2 linked regions of the Homo sapiens genome follow. The protein of the gene in region 1 purifies or fractionates together with the protein of each later gene. This does not show direct contact. Each region holds a gene or a part of one and is shown on either strand. Other genes may lie near its edges.

Region 1 (5,504 bases):
GGAAAGGTTATGTCAGCTAATCCTTAACCTTCTCTGTTAGTGAAACAGCCAGGACATTGTTTTTCTGGTTTTCCTTCGTGGCCTTTGAGGCACCATGATAAGAGCCAGCTCAGGGGCCCGCAGGGGTCTCCTCTCTGTGCATTTCTGTCCCCACTGCCTGGGCCCCTGTCCATTTCCCTCTCTCTTTGCCTGAGGCCACTCTATCCTGCAGTGAGGGAGCTGGGAGGCCTCTTTGTCCAGAGCCATAAATTCTTGGCCAGCCCAGGACACTCAGAAACCCTCACCCGCCATCCTTCAGTCACTGGGGCTGTCAGGGCGGACAGACTATGAATTCAAAGCATGCAGACAAATCCAAACTTAGGCATTGCAAAAGCCCTGTTGACAAAAAGCCTGATGGCAGAGAGCTTAAGAGGATTGAAAGATGCATGCCCTAGAGTCATTAGGTTTTGCTGTCAGACCCTTGGAATTGGAAATGCAGCACCATGAGCCATGTGTTTGCCAAGAAGTGGCCTCCTGATGCACCAGGACAGCTTCCGCAGGTGGAGCCTGCTGGCCTCCAAGAGGCACTATGTGTGTGACCCTGGGAGCAAGAGCGAGACCTGAGGCCCTGCAGATGCCCACAACCAAGTCCGGGTACAGGGTCTAGGCTCTTCTATCCTCAGGGGTCTGTGGATTCCAAAAATGAAATGCAACAGGTGCCAAATATATCTGAAATTGAAGCTTATTTGCCCAGCTTGGCAACTTCCGCTGGCTCATTTTCCCTTAAAGTTTTCATATTCCCAGCATGTTCCCACTCCATTCTTGCTGCAAATACAGTCTGAAGTTTGCTGGCCCAGGGAACTGACAAAGCCTCGTTCCCTCCCCAGCATTGCCTTCCCCTGGGGCAGTGTTGGAGGTACCACGGCTTGATTTTCATGTTGGATGCTCTTTTTCCTCACATCCTTACAGCCCTTGGACATGCCCTGGTTATCACCACACAGACCCCAGTTCTCTCCCCATATTTCATTTTTTCCTATGCATTTCAATATTAGAAAAGCCTGACTCACATTTTCTTTAGGGAGGGGCAGGGAGAAGATTTCAACATTCACCCTCACTGCCGGTCTCTCTCTTCAGCTACACCCACGCCCCCAGTCCCCTTCTCTCTCCTCCACACCTTCTTTTTTGGCTTTGTTTTGGTTTTCATTGAGTTCTGTCCAAACATCGAATATTTTTAAGCTGTGAGGAATGGGGGTGTCGGGAGGAAGTGGCCAGTCTCTTGTCAACACCCTGTTTCTTTTCCTGGCTGGCAGGTTTTGATTGGAACTTGGTATTCAAGTGGGATTACATGACGCCTGAGCAGAGAAGGTCCCGGCAGGGGAACCCAGTCGCCCCTATAAAGTAAGTGCCAGCATCCTTCAGGGTGCCCCTCCCAGATGAGACCCCAGGTTCCAGCTTCTTTGCTGGGCCCGCACCGCCTGGAGACCCAGTGGGGGCTGTTCACCTTCTGCCCTCCGGTTTCCCCTCGTCTCAGCTCAAAGATGAGCACCTTCCACCAGGTCATAGAATAAAATCCTTGGAGATTTCTTTTCCACAGTTGAAGTCTCACATAGGTTTATAAGGCCTATCTGCTAGGTCTGTGCATTCCTGTATGTTGATAATGTAGAGCGTTTCTGTAGCAGAGCAGGATCTCCGAGCTGACCCCAGGCCCAGGAAAAGGGGCTTGGTGGGCAGCAGGAGGCTTACTGCTGCTACTGCCCAGCAGGCCTTTGCTCTCCTGCAGAGGAAGGAGCCCATGCTCATGAAGCCCATGCTTTTAAGATTCCCAGGCCGGGCGGTGGGCTTTCTGGTTGAGAGTCAGGATGCCTTCTCTAGCTGGGGAGAGAAGGGGGCCACCTCTTCCAAGTTGGCACACGGTTAAGTGAGATAGCATTCACAGAGTACTTAGCGCTGAAATATATTTGCTGACATTTAGCCAACATCTGCAGTGTGCCATAGACCTTCCCAGCACTTTACACTGAATTCGCACAGCATCGCTTCTGGGAACAAAGTAGGGAGCTCAGTGTACATCTGTTGTCAACCCCTTCCTGGGATGATGAAGTGAGGAGCATGGTGGGTTCCCTTGTAGGAGGTGGAGTCTCATCTATGATAGTGATAATGAGAGCTGGTGCTGTGGAGCATTTCCTAAGCGTGCTCAGGGCTTTATGCCCATGATTTTTTGCAATCCTCGTAGCTACCCTATAAGGAAACTGACACACAGAAAGGCCGAGTTCTTTGCCTATGGCAGCATGTCAGTGAGTAGTGATCCAGCCCCAGCAGTCGCTCCCACATAGGGGAGGCTCAGTCCAGCCCCTGGCACTGTGGGAACATCCAGGCAGGGACAGTGGGGGAGGCATTTGAAGGCAGCAGTGGTGAAGCAGAGAGAGTGGCATGCTGGGCACTGAGCAGAAAACAGTGGCAGTGTGGCTGTTCTGAAGATCAGCTTATTGTTAGGGAATCAAGGCTTGGCCTTGGCGCAAGGGTGCTGGCAATCTAACCTTGACTTTGCCCTCTCCTCCCTCCCCCCTCTTCTTTCTGCCTCTTTAGAACCCCCATGATTGCTGGTGGGCTGTTTGTGATGGATAAGTTCTATTTTGAAGAACTGGGGAAGTACGACATGATGATGGATGTGTGGGGAGGAGAGAACCTAGGTATGTACAAGCCTCAAATCTCAGGACAGAGAAGTGCCTCAGCTCTGCAAAAGGCAGGGTGCCAATTGGAAAAAAAATTTAAAAGGCTTCAGAGTGACCATTCACTGGGCTTAATCGATCCTTGCAAACACATATGTAACACCCCTTTTGCTCTTGAAAGTCTCATGAGTTGGGCATTAAAATGTGCCTCCCTAGGTTAGAGTGGAGGATGCCAGAATACGGATAAAGTCTTTGAAGGGAAATGCAAACTCTTTCAAGGCGTCTGAACCCAAGTGTTTGGAATGTTGCAGGCTTGCAAAAACAGAGGGAAACAGTCCAGGAGCTCAGATTCATGCTGAGTGGTGGAGAGTGGAAAATGAACCCCGGCGAGGCTGGTGGGATTGATTGAATTGAAATCATGAAAATCCGATGGGGCAGGGAGGCCTTGGCACTTAATCCCTTCTCGACTACCTTTGCGAATGGTTCTCATTTGTTTTTCTGTTTGTTTGTTTTTTTGTTTTTAAATACCCCATGCAAATTATTTTTACCCAGGTTTAGGCACAGCAAAATTTTGCACATTGTGGTCTATATTGGTAGCCTTATATTTACTGCATAAAAGATGAAAAGATGTGTTTTGTTTGTTTAGGGTTTGGAGTGGGGGAGATCTTTTTTGCTTGTTTCAATTAAAGCCTTTTGTTTCAAATGCTTGACATTCTGAGCGAATTCTCCTGGGCTGCTGAGTGTTGTTAACTTACATTCGTCCTTGGGTGAGTGTACCCTGGAGGACAGGGGAGAAGGAAAGGGGAAAATGAGGCCACTCATTTTTAATAGTTTTGAGACTTTGAAAGTTTTTGTTACTTTAAAAGAAAAGACTAGCCTAGCCTATTATTTTTCCATTGTTTTATGATGTTGAAGTCAGTGATACCATCTCATCTTTGAGGATTTCTCTGCCTTGGTTTGATGTTGAAAGCTTCTTTAGGCTCGATTACTATACTGCACGGGTGGAGAGACCGTGAGTCAAACTCCTTTTGGGTTGTTTTAAAAAAATGATACATTAACCTCTAGGGAAAGCTTGGATTGAAGTCACTTGAGTACAAAAGGCTTCAGAATTGTTAACCCTCTAAAGAGAGTTCTGTCACCCTGTTCCATGGGTATCCCCTAATGGTTTAGTGGAAATCCAGCAGGCCAGGGTCGCCCAGTAGGGCAGCGTATCGTGTAGGTGGCCATTTCTCAAAAACAGTGTGGTTTTCAGAAGTTTGCATACTATTAGCTGAAATGAGACATCAGCCAGCATTTTGTGTCATCGTGTAGGAAGAGTGTTGATTTACATATCTAAGGAGGCATTCACCCAGAGACTGGGGGGTAGATTTGTTGTAAGGAGCTGCTTTATTGTGGTTTGGTGTTTGTATTTATTATGTAGCTGTGCTAGAAGGTTCTAGGGTCTGAGCGGTTCAGGTTGGGGTGAAGATGAACCCTGCAAGCAGGAGCACATCTCTGCCCAGGAAGGCTGGGGCATCTGTCCCTCCGTGAGGGGCTCTCCTGGGTTATGCCAAGGACTTGGACTCCCAGTGAGGTTTGGAGGGCTCAAGAGCTTCACGTGAGAAGGCCATGCCGTGAGCCTTTCTCCTTAGCACTGCTCTAGCTTCTGCTTCTGGGGGCCGTGCACACTACTAGCCATTGCCAACCTGAGGGGCCTCTGTGGGTGTGCATTGGGAGAGGTGTATGGTGCAGAGAGGCCCGAGTAAGATCCAAAACCACCTCCTCAACGTGTGCCCCGCTGGAATGACCAGAGCTTCCCATTTTCCTAATCATGTAAGTCCTTATGTCATTTAAGCAATTAAAATGGAGGACCAAGAACCTAACCCTTAACTCTAACAATGGGGGTAAGGCTCCTTGGGGGCATCATCTGTGTTTCTCTACATCCCTGTCATGCAAGGATGATGCTAAGTACTTCCAGGGAATCATCTGTTTGTGCTTTCTTAACGGAGTGTGGTCTGCAGAGGTCATGACACCTTGCCCAGGGTCTCAGAACCAAGATGTAAACACTAACTGCCTAATTAAAAAGCCATTGAGTTTTACTGAGTAATTATCCTCAAAGTTATAGGGTTCAAATGAAATCAACGCTGAAGATACTGTAGTTATACTTAGCCTTGAAAATCTCCCACAAAAGCCCTGGAAGGATCCCTTGTTGGCTTAACAGATTCCCCATAGAGAAGCCAAGGGGATTTCCTAGCCCCTAATTCTAAATCTTGTGGTGAGGCAAATGGATATTTAAATTTTATTTTCTGAAATAGAGACAACTTCTTTTTTTTTTTTTTTTTTTTTTGAGATGGAGTCTCGCTCTGTCACCAGGCTGGAGTCCAGTGGCACATTCTTGGCTCACCGCAACGTTCGCCTCCCGGGTTCAAGTGATTCTCCTGCCTCAGCCTCCCAAGTAACTGGGATTACAGGCATGTGCCACCGTGCCCGGCTAATTTTTTGTATTTTTAGTAGAGACAGGGTTTCTCCATGTTGGTCAGGCTGGTCTCAAACTCCCAACCTCAGGTGATCCGCCTGCCTCGGCCTCCCAAAGTGTTGGGATTACAGGCATGAGCCACTGCGCCCAGCCGACAACTTCTTAGGTTGTGTTGGGAACTGTAAAAAGTAAAGTCGGAAACTTTCACTGCTTATGCTTATGTGATTGTAACCATACATTTTCTATTAGTACAAGAGAGTTGCTTATTAAAGCCCCGTAACAGCTGCATGGATCACCCATTCCTAGTGAGTGAGGCATTAGTTTGCTGGACCCAAGTAGAAACTCATGGTGTTCTGACCCCTGTGTTGTATTTCCTGCCATGTGCCTGGCATTCTGGGCACCTG
Region 2 (3,500 bases), on another chromosome or scaffold:
GTGCTCAAAAAAAAAAAAAAAAACAGTCCCATAATGATGGCGCTTTCTCAAAAAGATACAAAAGCCAAATGAAAGATGGGCAGGATGAGGACATAACCAAAGGCCAGTTAGTGCCAAAGCTGGAAGAATTTGAGCAACAAAATAAATAATATTAGATTATAACTCAAAGTATAAAATAAATACCCATGTACTCACATGATATAAATGATTGAATAAATAAATGGGAGACAATAGACATGCATAATTATTCTCCTATGCAGAAGAATTCCAAATAAATTATGTAGATACTCCCTCCATCTAAAGGACAGGAAGCATAACTCCCTGCTCCTTAAATGTAGGCTACACATAGTGACTTCCTTCCAAGGAGAGCCAAGAGGAAAATAACCTTATGGTAGAGAAACCTGATAAGCGTCACCTCAAGCCAGCTAACCCATGGTTAATATCAACAGTGATGTGTCACGTTGACAGTATGTACTTTTTTTTTTTTTTTTTGAGACTCTCGCTCTGTTGCCCAGGCTGGAGTGCAGTGGCGTGATCTCGGCTCACGGCAAGCCCCGCCTCCCGAGTTCACGCCATTCTCCTGCCTCAGCCTCCTGAGCAGCTCCGACTACAGGCATGCACCACCACGCCCGGCTAATTTTTTGTATTTTTAGTAGAGACAGGGTTTCACTGTGCTAGCCAGGATGGTCTCTATCTCCTGACCTCGTGATCCACGCACCTTGGCCTCCCAAAGTGCTGGGATTACAGGCGTGAGCCACCGTGCCCGGCCGTATGTACTCTTGATATGATGTGATAAGAATTGCACTTTACTTCAGTGGTCTTCTCCTCAACATCTATCACCTTAGTCTAGTTGTAAGAGAAACATCAGACAGATTTCAACCGAAGGAAAGTCTATAAAATACATAGCCAATACTTCTTGAAAATCACATCACCAGGTCTTTAAATGAATTTGTAACTTTGTAGCTATTCTTTCAGACCGAGAGGTATCTGAAGTGGCCTGAATAACGTGGGTTCCCCATGATTTGTCCTCAATGGCTAGATCCTAGGATCCTTACTAACCTTAGCTCTGAGCTCCATTTCCGCATCAGATTCATCCAGCCAACGATCAAAGTCAGGAGCCAAAAACAGTGGTCGCTTTTCCTGCTTTGTGAGTCTCTCCCACCACTGACTCACTTTCTTCTGTACTGTAATGTTTACCTGCCTCTGGGTCAGTTTGTAAACAGGCTAGGAGAGAAAGTGAAAATGTGAGAATGCCCTCTTCTGTTCCCTGAAGCAGCACCATGCCAGGGGCGCCGTACATAGAAGCTGCAGGATATATTTATTCTCCTTCTTTCTCTGGTCCTGCAAGTCCTGATGCAAAGGGAACATCTAGACCAGGGGTCTCCAACTCCTGGGCCATGGACTGATACTGGTCCATGGCCTGTTGGGAATCGGGCCACACAGGAGGAGCTGAGTGGTGGGCAAGTGAGTGAAACTTCACCTATATTTAGACTCGCTCTCCATCACTTGCATTACTGCCTAAGCCCTGCCTCCTGTCAGATCAGCATTGGCACAAGATTCACATAGGAGCGTGAACTCTATTGTGAATTGTGCATGCAAGGAATCTAGGTTGCTCACTCTTTATGAGACTATAATGCCTGATGATCTGTCACTGTCTCCCATCACCCCCAGATGGGACTGTCTAGTTGCAAGAAAACAAGCTCAGGGCTCTCACTGATTCTACATTATGGTGAGTTGTATTCATTATATATTACAATGTAATAATAACAGAAATAAAGTGCACAACAAATGTAATGCATTTGAATCACCCTGAAACCATCCCCATTCCACCATCTGTGGAAAAAGTGCCTTCCACAAAATTGGTCCCTGGTGCCAAAAAGGTTGATCTAGACCAACGGCTGGCATGGAGAACTGGTAAGGACATAATGTCCTTCTCTGATTCCCCCAGTGAATGATACAGGAGGATATCAGGATAAGAAAGGCAAATAGTTCCTGGTTAGGCTGGAGGGAACTAGCATGAACCTCCTGCCACAGCCACATCATGCAAGGTACTATGTCCAATCACCCTCTCAAGGGTACTGCATCCAATTACCCTCAGCTTATAAATTTTCCTCCCATGAAAATGACTGTCCTGGCTCAGCAGACCCCGGTTTTAGAAACACCTGCATCAAGATCAGAACTGTATTGGATCAGTTACAGATTTTTTCACAGGGGTCAATTTGGGGAGTCTTCCCAACTAAACTCAAATTCTTATAGGCCATTCCAGCTCATTGTTTGTCTACATGTCCTGTCCCTTTTCTCCAAAGGAAGCTCCATGACAGGTTCTCTGCCCACTGTACCACTGGTTATTATTCATGCTTTCTCAAAACAACTGAGCACCTGCGCACGGAAATCAAGAAGCTCAAGCCACCAGAGCTAAGTGTAATTCCAGAAGCCAAAATACCCCATCTATTGGATTCTCTCCCTGCTTATGAGAGAAGCTTCCTCAGGCTCTAAGGGAAGGGAAGTTTTGATGATATCTGCAGCATTCTTTCTGAAGGCCAGCTGCCTTCACCCTTTCTGATTTCTATTTTTCTCACCTGCAACTGTGGCAAAGTCACATGAAAGTAACCCCTGGTGGGGGCTTCAACCACTCTATGTAACTCTGTTCTCAATGGGTGCCATATTCCTCTGCCATCACTAAAACCAGAGAATATCAGAGCTGGAAGGATCACTTAGTCCAGACCTTCATTTAACACATGAGAACACCAGAACTCGAAGAAGTTAAGAGACTTGTTCAAGATCACACTGCTAATAAATGGCAGGGCCCTGACTCAACTTGGGGTCTCTGACTTTCCCATTCCTCTGCAGCTAAAACCTGGGCTCTGTTCCAAATAAAAGAACTCTATTATTCCCCTTTGGTTTTTATCTTCTTCTCTCCACAAACCCTGCTCCCCATTTCACTAAACTACTGGTATTCATTTCCTAAAATGGGAAGGGAAGTGAGAAAGGAAAGAACATACCTCTGGTTTCACAAGGTCTAAGAACTCCAGGTGAAATTCATAGACATTGTCTCCTTTGGCACCATGTCCTTGAGCTATAAAGAAAGAAATGTGGGTTACTGCAAACTTGAGCAGAGCAAGGCCATCCAAAAGCCAGCTTGGTGCAGTTCTTTCCCAAGTATGCGAATATTACACTTTTTTTTTTTTGAGACAGAGTCTTGCTCTGTTGCCCAGGCTGGAGTGCAGTGGCATGATCTCGGCTCACTGCAAGCTCCGCCTCCCGGGTTCATGCCATTCTCCTGCCTCAGCCTCCCGAGTAGCTGGGACTACAGGCTCCCGCCACCATGCCCAGATAATTTTTTTTATTTTTAGTAGAGACGGGGTTTCACCGTGTTAACCAGGATGGTCTCGATCTCCTGACCTTGTGATCCACCCGCCTCAGCCTCCCAAAGTGCTGGGATTACAGACATGAGCCACTGTACCTGGCACGAATATCATACTTGATTGTAGCCAAAAGGC

Evidence for each region. Proteins that work in one complex are often made in the same cells at the same time.
Region 2: the proteins of GALNT2 (region 1) and HACD3 fractionate together in Homo sapiens (co-fractionation; one large-scale study listed by BioGRID). This does not show direct contact.

What each region holds. Positions count from the first base shown.
Region 1 is NC_000001.11:230,247,895-230,253,398, forward strand, and holds part of GALNT2 (polypeptide N-acetylgalactosaminyltransferase 2 precursor), read left to right. Parts: intron 1-1,289; coding exon 1,290-1,377; intron 1,378-2,562; coding exon 2,563-2,666; intron 2,667-5,504. UniProt on the Homo sapiens protein: Catalyzes the initial reaction in O-linked oligosaccharide biosynthesis, the transfer of an N-acetyl-D-galactosamine residue to a serine or threonine residue on the protein receptor.
Region 2 is NC_000015.10:65,554,463-65,557,962, reverse strand, and holds part of HACD3 (very-long-chain (3R)-3-hydroxyacyl-CoA dehydratase 3), read right to left. Parts: intron 3,077-3,500; coding exon 3,003-3,076; intron 1,225-3,002; coding exon 1,060-1,224; intron 1-1,059. UniProt on the Homo sapiens protein: Catalyzes the third of the four reactions of the long-chain fatty acids elongation cycle. This endoplasmic reticulum-bound enzymatic process, allows the addition of two carbons to the chain of long- and very long-chain fatty acids/VLCFAs per cycle.